2 separate regions of the Homo sapiens genome follow, and region 1 is linked to region 2. Evidence: fine-mapped expression QTL. Tissue or cell type: pancreas. Region 2 holds a variant in brackets; the other region holds the start of a gene. All regions are shown on one strand. Distances are from middle to middle.

What was found. PIP is the estimated chance that this variant, and not a neighbour inherited with it, causes the effect.
Region 1: it holds the start of CLPSL1, and the variant in region 2 is the best candidate, but not a certain one, in a credible set for the expression of CLPSL1 in pancreas (GTEx, PIP 0.61).

The regions. Positions count from the first base shown.
Region 1 is chr6:35,778,899-35,783,898 of GRCh38, reverse strand. It overlaps CLPSL1 (colipase like 1), which reads right to left and starts at 2,880. Exons shown (of 3, transcript NM_001010886.5): 1 at 2,690-2,880. The coding sequence starts at 2,788. CLPSL2 (colipase like 2) reads right to left here. Exons shown (of 3, transcript NM_207409.4): 3 at 4,347-4,544. The coding sequence ends at 4,449. RefSeq lists an enhancer at 1,268-1,769.
Region 2 is chr6:35,722,764-35,727,974 of GRCh38, reverse strand. It overlaps LOC285847 (a long non-coding RNA gene), which reads left to right. Exons shown (of 10, transcript NR_027117.2): 10 at 842-1,213. It also overlaps a transcript of FKBP5 not described here. Among named protein-coding and RNA genes, the nearest start is that of ARMC12, 12 kb to the left of the region's middle. RefSeq lists silencers at 1-51, 1,957-2,133. The variant C/T (reference allele first, on the strand shown) is at 3,110.

The DNA.
Region 1 (5,000 bases), 56 kb before region 2:
AAGACAGGGAAGAGATACATAAGTGAAATGATACGGTATCACAGAAAAAACGTTGAGCAAAATAAGTCAGATTTTTTTTTTTTTTTTTTTTTGGAGATAGAGTCTCGCCGTCGCCCAGGCTGGAATGCAGTGGTGCGATCTCGGCTCACTGCAAGCTGTGCCTCCCAGGTTCACGCCATTCTCCTGCCTCAGCCTCCTGAGTAGCTGGGATTACAGGCACCCGCCACCACGCACAGCTAATTTTTTTTGTATTTTTAGTAGAGACAGGGTTTCACTGTGTTAGCCAGGATGGTCTTGATCTCCTGACCTCGTGATCTGCCTGCCTCGGCCTCCCAAAATGCTGGGATTACAGGCATGAGCCACCGCGCCCAGCCCCCCTTTTTTTTTTTGAGACAAAGTCTCACTCTACTGCCCAGGCTGGAGTGCAATGGCACTTTCTTGGCTTAGTTCAACCTCTGCCTCCCGGGTTCAAGCAATTCTCCTGCCTCAGCCTCCCAAGTAGCTGGGATTATAGGCATGTGCCACCACACCCAGCTAATTTTGTATTTTTAGTAGAGATGGGCTTTCACCATGTTGGTCAGGCTGTTCTCGAACTCTTGACGTCAGGTGATCCACTTGCCTCGGCCTTCCAAAGTGTTAGGATTACAGGCGTGAGCCACTGCGCCTGGCCCAAATTTTTTTTTAAAAGTACATACTGTGTGATTTCATCATACAAAGTTCAAAACTAATCTATAATAATGGAAGTCAGGAGACAGTTGCCTTTGGTGCTATTGACTAGGAGAGTAAGAGTGAGGCTTTTGGGGTAATGAAAATGTCCTATATCTTGTTCTGACGGTAGTGATGAGGGGGTCTGCATAGGTTCGAATCCATTGATTTCCATGTAAACTCAAGATCTGAGCACCTAGTAAGGTGTGATTTTTACCACATATGTTATATACATAACAATAAGTAATATTTATATTATATATGTATAATCCTATTATGTACGATTATGTGCTATAAAGAAAATAAGGCAGGAAAGGAGGATTGGCTATAGCCGCCTCCCGGCCTCCCTGCTTCCATCCTTGCCAGTGACCTCCCCCAGGTACCCCCTCACCATCCCCACTCTCACTTCCACCTCCCCAACCTCCTCAAGTCAGTTCTTCCCAGAATAGCTAGAGGAGTCTTTTTTAAAAGATAATTCCCACAATGCCATTCTCTGGATTCAAAGCCATCACTGGGGCTCTGAATCCACACCTGGCCTGGCCCCAGGGCATTTGCGCTTGCTGGCCCTCTGCCCAGAGCACCCTGTCCTGCACTCTTTGCCCGGCTGCCTCCCCCTCCTGCCTCAGGCTGAAGACTTCCTGGACACCAGCAGAGCAGTCCCCATCACCTGGTTGTACTTTGTTCACAACACTTATGACTCTCTGAAATCATCTTATTTATATGTTTAAAAATAATTTATTTCCCCCGCTAGCAACCTCAGCTCTGGGACATGGATCTTCTGCTCTCACGTTCACTGCTATATTTCTTAGCCCCCTTGGACTAAAGTCCTTACACATTGCAGGTGCTGAATGCATAACTGTTGAATAAATGAGAATATTGTAACTGTGTTCCATTTATCTCTCTGAGCTCATCTCCCATGATTTCCACTCTCTCTTACTCCTCTTTGCTATTCCTTGAATATGCCAGCACATTTCCGCCCCCAGACCTTTGCCCTGGCTGTTCCCTCCACCTTGAATGCTCTTCTCCCAGAGACCCCCCTGCTTTGCCGGTTAGGAAGGACTTCCCTCCCTTTAGGTCTTTGCTAAAATTTCACATTCTTAGTAAACTCTTCCCTGAGCACCCCATTTAAAACTGCAAACCCTGGCCAGGTGCGGTGGCTTACGCCTGTAATCCTAGCACTTTGGGAGGCCAAGGCGGGTGGATTGCTTGAGGTCAGGAGTTCAAGACCAGCCTGACCAATACGGTGAAACCCTGTCTCTACTAAAAATACAGAAAAAAAAATTAGCTGGGCGTGGCAGTGGGTGCCTGTAATCTCAGCTACTCGGGAGGCTGAGGCAGGGGAATCGCTTGAACTCAGGAGGCTAAGTTTGCAGTGAGCCGAGATTGCCCCACTGCACTCCAGCCTGGGTGACAAAGCAAGACTCTGTCCCAAAAAAAAGAAAAAGAAAAAGAAAAAAAAAAAAAACACCTGCAAACCCTTCTCACACCACCACTCCCACAGCTCGATTCTTATTTTCCCTTTCCTTGCTTATCACCTGAGATAGATGCTATTATTAATAGCATCTATTGTAATGTTTTACTTCTTTGCCTCACACACTAGAGTGACAGCTCTACAAGGGCAAGGATTTTTATCTTTCTTGCTCACAGCCCTATCACTAAATGTAGAAAAATAATTTACATATAGTAGGTGCTCAATAAAAATGTGTTGCATGAGTGAATATCTGTCTCCCTTACCACATGTGCGCATGGGCAGGGGGGCTCTCTCACATTCACCTCTGTGGCAGCAGCACCTGGCACTGCCCTGGCACAGCTTCCAGGACCAGGTTGTTCTCTCTTTCCTCCGAGACATCTTCCACCCAACACTCCCTGCTGCCCCCACTTCTGGCCTTCTCCCACACTAGCCCCCATGCCCGCTCACCTCCCCAAATAGTACAGGCCTTAGGACAGTGGAGGGGGAGGTGACTGCACTCTCCAGCTTTCTTACCAAAAGGTTGTATTTTGTTGGAGAAAGTGAGCCCCTGGTGAGGAGGAAGAGAAAGAAGAAGAGAAGGAACAGCAGCAGCAGCCATTGGGGTAGCATCATGGCCCACAGGTCGTGGTGGCTTTTCTAGGGTCCAGCGAAATATCCTGCACGCCGACCATGTGGGTGTCCTCCCAGCTGTGGGAACACCATGTAAAACCAGCACCCAACCCCGTCAGAATTTTCCCATCCTGCACAATACTCAGGCTAGGCCAATCAGCAAATTCCACCACAATAATTAGTTCAGGCAGACTAAGCCAATCCAATCAGAACCGATCTTAGGATGTTTGCTGAAAATTGTGGAACAGAGATGTTTTCTTTCTCTGAAAGGCACAGTATTGATGTACATGGTGGATTTGTGGTTAAGAGCCTGGCCTCTGGGGCAGGATTGTCTGGGTTCAAGTCTCAGTTCCAACCCTTACTTTAGGAGCCTCGATACCCTGTTTGTAAAATAGGGATAATTATAACACCTACTATAGCCCTGTTGTGACAAAAAGATGAGTCAATACAGTTAAGAAAGCACTTTGGGCCAGGCGCAGTGGCTCATGCTTGTAATCCCAGCACTTTGGGAGGCTGAGGCAGGAGGATCACTTGAGCCCAGGAGTTTGAGACCAGCCAGGGCAATACAGTGAGGCCCTGTCTCTATTAAAAAAAAAAAAAGAAAAAGAAAAAGAAAAAAAATTGGCCGGGCATGGTGTCACACACCTGTAGTCCCAGTTACTTGGGAGGCTGACGTGGGAGGATCTTTTGAGCCCAGGGGGTTGAGGCTGCAGTACGCTGCGATCGAGCCACTGCACTCCAGCCTGGGTGCTGTCTTAAATTTTTTAATTAAATGAAAAAGAAAGCACTTTGCACAGTGTCTGGCACATAGGAAGTGCTCAATAAATCCTACCTGTTATTAGGTGACACCTGGAATGTTTGTGACTACTGGGAAGGAATTCAGCCTGAGAGCTGCTGGCTCTGGCCCTACCTAAGGGTTGCCTGACCTCTGGACTTTCATTTCCCATCACCAGTAAATCCCCTCCTCACCTAGACCAATTTGAGTTGGTTTTTAAGATACTTGCAGCAGAAAGAGGCCTCACTGCTACCCCAATGATATGACCTAGGGCAAGTCATGTCGCTTCTCTGGGCCTCAGTTTCTTTGTCCATGCAGTGAACCGACAATACCTGAGAGAGCGGAGGCATCCATGCACCAGGTCCCTTTCCCACCACAGGCATTTCTGCATTTATACTTTGCACATTCTCACCAACTCTCTAATGATCTCTACCCTTTTGTGCCCCACAACCCGCCCCGCAAAACATTCAGATACCTCCACCTAGTCTCTCCCTACCACACACCCCTCCATAGGCACCCCAACATACACTCTCCAGGTACATTCCTCAATCCCGTCTCTCCCACACAGCCCTCCAACCAGAGAATCAGCCCTTTCCCAGACCCAGCCCCTGCTCCACCACACCCTCCCTGTGCCATTCCCTTCCTGCAGTTCTACCCTGACCTCCGGACAGGGCCAAATCCCATTAGAAGCTCATTCATGCCTCCAGTCTCCCCTTTTGCCTGCCCCCTGGACTGGTACAATCTCCACCAGGTCCCCTCGCCCAGAAAGTACAGACAGAGGCCAAGGACAGGAAGTGACTTTAATGTCTCAGGAGCTGGATTTGGAGCAAGTTGGTGGCAACCAGGGCCTATGGCCCCAAGGGAGCAGTGACCAGCCTGCATCTTCCTCTAAATCATATGGCACCGGCGGGAACACATCAAGTCCTTGGATATGCACGTCAAGCCCATCCGGCAAGGGCAGATGATGTTGGTAGCTCCCTTGGTCTGCAGGGAGTGGGTATGAGAATCGGGAGTCACCAGGATGCAGGAAGGATGGGGACTTAAACTTCTTGGGGACCAGAACCAAGAGTACCAGGCCTGGAGTAAGACAGACCTGGGCTGTCTCTACAGCTTATAACTGCGTGACCTTCAGCAAGTCAATGAACCTCTCCAGCTCGGTTTCCTCATCTGTCAAATGGGGACAGTAATAGTAACCCCCCTCATAGGGTTGTTGTGAGGACTAAATGAGATAGAGCAGATCAAGTGGTGATAATAAAAAGACCCTTTAGGCCATGCGCGGTGGCTCACCCCTGTAATCCCAGCGCTTTGGAAGGCCGAGGCGGGTGGATCACCTGAGGTCAGGAGTTTGAGACTAGCCTGGCCAACATGGTCATGGACTAATAATATAAAAATTAGCACATGCCTGTAATCCCAGCTACTCCAGAGGCTGAGGCAGAGGAA
Region 2 (5,211 bases):
AACCTCCGGGGCGCGCGTGGGCCCCGCAGCCCTGCCCACTCACCGGCCTTGGAGCACCCAGACCTAGCCATCCCCCATTTGCCCCTGCTTGGGTACCCCAGGCTTGGGTGGCGCCTGGATTAGCACAGCTGGGGGAGGGAGCAGGTGTGGGGAGCTCTACGAGCAGAAGGAGCCACCCAGGCTGCCGCCAGCGCTCTCCAGCGCTCAGTCCGTGCTTCTCCAGCGCTCAGTCCGGGGGGCGGGAGGAGGATAGCTGGAGCTCGCCAGCCCCAGACTTGCGAGACCTGGGACGCAGTCACGTGACAACGGAAGCCCGTGTTGAGGGGGCCAATTCAAGCAATCCCCAGGAGGAGCCTCCCCTTTCCTAGCCCCCCTTCCCTGATCCTTCACAGAAGCCTGGAACACGGAGACTCCAGGGATTCCCGGGGCTGGCAAACCAAGCCCAGCCCTTTTGGACGGTTTGGGAAATCCCTGGCACGACGCCGGGAGTAGGGAGAGCCCAGACACTGGCGAGTGGGTGTGGACGACAGGGTGAAAGAAGGGCAAGGCCAAGGAAGACGACCCCAAACTGCCCCTGGAATCTGACCCTTCCCTGTGTTTAGCTCCAAACCCCTGGTTTATTCAGAGCCACGTTTTCTCCTTACCCATCCTTCTGTGGAAAGACATCACTAAGTGCTGGTCCTAAAGATCCCACCCTCTCCAAACCAAGGAGGGAACAAAGCATTTATATCGCACGTTTACCGTGTGGAAGGCTCTGTATTGGGTCCTGCTAAAGAATGTCACCATGAGGTTAAGACACAGTCCTGAAGTCCTTTGTTCTCCCTCCTTCCCACCTCCACAGTTTGCTGTGCCATTTCTCATGCCAGGAGTGCCTGTCCTCCCTGTCTACCCATCTCTGCTGCTCCAGCTCATAAAGCTTCCTTGAAACAGTGCCAGCCAAATCTGATTCCTGTCTCCTCTGAACGCCCAGCACACTCAGTTTGTACCTTTCTCACGGCACAGCGTGTGGCCTGTCTCATATTCTAGCGATCTGTTTACTAATCCTGTTCTTCTAACCAGATTAGAAAGTCCTTGAGGCAGAAACAAAGTCTGCTTCTTCTTTGAGCCCTCTCCTCCACTGCCCCCGCCTCCCACCACCATTCCAACTCATCCCCCACAGGCCAGGCTTGGCACCGGAGTTCATGTTCAATAAATATTGGGTGTATTGAAATGATATCCTCCCCTTGGGCAATTGAAGAGACAAACACGCTGGATGTTAGGTTAAATAATAACCCAAGCCAGCAGGTGGTGAGTACCAAATGTGTGTAATAGCTATAGGGACTCAGAAGAAAGAAGGTGGTTCTAGGGAGAAAGATATGGGAGAAAGATCCCAGGAGGTTCTAGGCCTTGAGCTGTGTGTGTGTGTGTGTGTGTGTGTGTGTGTGTGTGTGTGTGTGTGGAGGAGGAGGAGATGGGAGGGGTGGACGTGACTCATTCTGCTTGACATCACCACAAAACAACCTCCACGCTAGGCACTTCACATGCATTATCTCTAATATTTAAGGTTGGGGGGATAGGATTGGGAGGCTTGGAGGGCACAGTGCCCAAGCCAGGCCTGCCTTCCCAAAGCCAACCAGAGCATAGAGGCAGCCTTGGATCTGGGCTCCCCACCCTCAGTCCCTGGGCACTGCCTGTTCTCTGGCCTGCCACTCCTACGTACTACACCCAAGAGAGCTGCCCAGCACTGCCTAGTTCTGGATGCACTCTGGTCCCACCCTGGTGAACAACTGCCTGTGTGACCTTGGACAAGGCACTTCCTCACCGTCATCTGTACCTCTCTTGCAGCCCTTACAGGCTGTGACTTCCAGTCAGTATCCAAGTGATGCTTGCCGCCTTTCCGGGTGTCACCTGGGCTGCTGGGGCTGTCTGCACCCTACATTCCCCCAAACACCCCCATGCATACACACTCATTGCTCCCTCCCAGTCTGGAGCTGCTGAGAGGAACAGGGTACAGAGTGTGAGCAGGGATGGTAGGTTTCCTGTGGTTGCAAAAGGAACATCAGGACTTTCCCTGCGGTGCCCCGAGCTGTGGGAGAAGTGGGGGAGGAGGAGGCAGGGCCAACCTCGAAGGAACCTCTGCTCTCTTCCCTCCCCATTTTAGTGCTCACAGCTCTCAAAAAGGCTGGTACAGTTTGTTACGCTGGGACCGGAATGTACCGTGTGTTTCATATGGCCTCTGTCCAGTCCTACACTGGCCGCTTTATATTTATACTTCCTTCTTTAGCTGTGGCATCCTGCTGTCAGTTACCCCTGCTCTCATCTCCCCATCTTCCACTTGGGCTCCCCAACTCCCCATGGATCAAGAAATGAGTCTCCTGCTTCCCACTCCCCGTCTTTAGGTTCTAAACTCTTGCTGGGGGTGGGAAGGTGGGGTGCAGAGAGACCCTGGAGAAGTTAGACTCCAGAAGGGTGAAGCCCCCAGTCCTTTCTCTCTCCCATCACCCAGCCTTGAAACTGCCTCTAAAGCTGTGGAGTCTCCACACCAGGTCTGGAGTTTCTCTGGACCCTTGAGGCTGATCCCTCTCCCCTTGCCAGCCTTGTTTCCCAAGCCTTTTAGCAATATTCCTGAGCCCAGCTAGACAAGTGACAGCACTATGTAAGTTGCCTCCAAGAGCTCGGCAGACCTGGTAATCACAGATCCTTCCTTGTCAGTCACAGAGAACAGAGGCAGAGGTGGGGGCCTCGCGGCAGGGAGGGGGATCTACCCATCCTCTCACCCCCAGGAGTCACACATTCCTAATGGAATTTGACACTTGATGATTTCTCAATGATTTTCTGAGTTGTGACCAGTTTAATCTCCTCAAAGTGGCTTAGATATTGAGAGATCAATACGTTTATGATCTGGCCTTTCTCCCCCAGGAGCATGGGATATTATTATTCACATTGATGGCTAATCTTGATTGCTTATATGGAGAACTATCTCTGCACACCAACCCCCAACAGCGTTTGGAACCCAAAGACTGTGGCACAGGAGACTCACTACTAGACCCAAGGTTGAGGTTCAGGTCTTTATTTACAGGATCCCATTTACTCCTCACAACAATTCTGGGGTGTGGGTGCTATTGTTAGC[C/T]GTCTTTGACAGTTAAGGAAACTGAGGCTCAGAAAAATAACAGAGCTCAGCTGAGATTCACACTCAGGTCTGTCTGACATCAAAGCCAGCACCTTTTTTTTTTTTTTTCTGAGACAAGGTCTCACCCTGTTGCCCAAGCTGGAGTACAGTGGGGAGATCATGGCTCACTGCTGCCTCAACCTCTGGGGCTCAAGCAGTCCTCCCACCTCAGCCTCCTGAGTAAACGTCCCAAGTAGCTGGGATTACAGGTGTGAACCATCACACCTGGCCAAAGCCAGCACTTCAAAATAGTCTTCAAGATTGCTCAGATTATGTAACTAAAATGCAAATTCTCCATTTCTCAAGCCTCAGAGTCTTACTCCCTTCTCCCTTCAAATGAAGGAGAACTCTGCCTCCTTGGAGCTCCTGCATGCCTTGAGGTGTGATCTGACAGCTAGAAAATTGTTTTTAGCCCATTCGACAGGCTGAAATCTGGATACTAGCAAGGCCCCAGAGGACAGTCTCAGCAGTGGAGTTGGACAGTCAGGCCTGCTGGCTGTGGGCTCCGTGTGTCTCTTGGCTGGCTGGCATGCCTGCTGCCCCTCACCCTTCACCCAGGAATAAACTTCCTGGTTGTATTGATTTGGCTCTGGGATCCAAAAACCAGGGGCTGAGCCTGGGTTCCAGGGCTCTGAAGTCAGGTCTATCTGCAGCACCCAGTGACAGTGACACGGCCTCTCTTAGGACCCGTTTACAGCAGGCCTTTGGGAGAAAGCACCACCATTATGTCAATCCCTGGCACTTATATCAGGCTGTGTACATTTAATGTACCTGCCTTAACTCAGTATGATCTTAATATGCCTCTAAAGTAAGAATCAGACTCGCTTTCCTGCTGGGAAAACTGAAGCAAGAGCAGCTAAGTTGCTTGCCTAAGGGCAAGAAACTAGGTTTGTAGTTGCTGTCTGGGGTACTTTGTTTCCTATCACAGGGCCTCTCCTGAGCTAAGAGAGGAAAAGTTTTCCAGGATGTCCTGATGATGTGTGGGCTTTCACTCAGCCCTATCACCCAAGGAAGGGACCACAGCACCACACTGCCCGTGCCAGCCTTATCTGCCTACCCCCAGGGGATGAAGCAGGGACCCCAGACGTAATGTATTTAGTTGGTCTGTCCTGGTCTCTGGCAATCTGTCCAATATGGCTCTCATGGGCACATTTTGTCTTTCTGACCTTCTTCTTTCTCTGAGTTCATTCTTCTTTGTTTATCTTTCCTTCTGAATTTCTCTCTCCTTGTTCACTGAGAGTCCTGTTTACCTCCATCTATCGGTGTTTACTTTTTATTTTTGCTTTTTGTATTTCCAGTCTTCTGGGAATTTTCCCAAGATCCCTTCTGCCTTCTTCCCTCTGACACCATCTTTTTTCCCAGGAAGCATCTTCCATTTGTTCCTACCTCCACGCCCTATGCCTCACCTTGCCCCAAGCTTCTGCCAGTGTCAGATTGCTCAGCCTTGTTAATCCAGTGGGCACTTACAGAGCACCTACTGTGTGTCCCAGGAATTGAGTTAATGCCCTGGGAACCAAAGTCCTACACCTGTGCCTGGGCATTTATTTATTTATTTTTATTTTAATTTTTATTTTATTTTATTTATTTATTTTTTGAGATGGAGTCTCGCTCTGTCGCCCAGGCTGGAGTGCAGTGGTGTGATCTCAGCTCACTGCAACCTCTGCCTCCCGGATTCAAGCAATTCTCCTGCCTCAGCCTCCCAAGTAGCTGGGATTACAGGCCCCCGCCACCACGCCCAGCTAATTTTTTGTATTTTTAGTAGAGATGGCGTTTCACTGTGCTGGCCAGGATGGTCTCGATCTCCTGATCTCATGATCCGCCCGCCTTGGCCTCCCAAAGTGCTGGGATTACAGGCGTGAGCCATCGCGCCCGGCCATGCCTGAGCATTGATTAAGCACCTACTGTGTGTGTGTGCCAAGTATTGTGCTACAAACTGGGGACACAAAACCTGGTCGCTGCCCTCCTATGGGCTACTTGGAAAGTCTGAGTCCCTGGTTTACTTGGGAAAATGCACAAAAACGGATCATTATAATGTCTTGGGAAGTTGGGGACTGGGTGTGGCC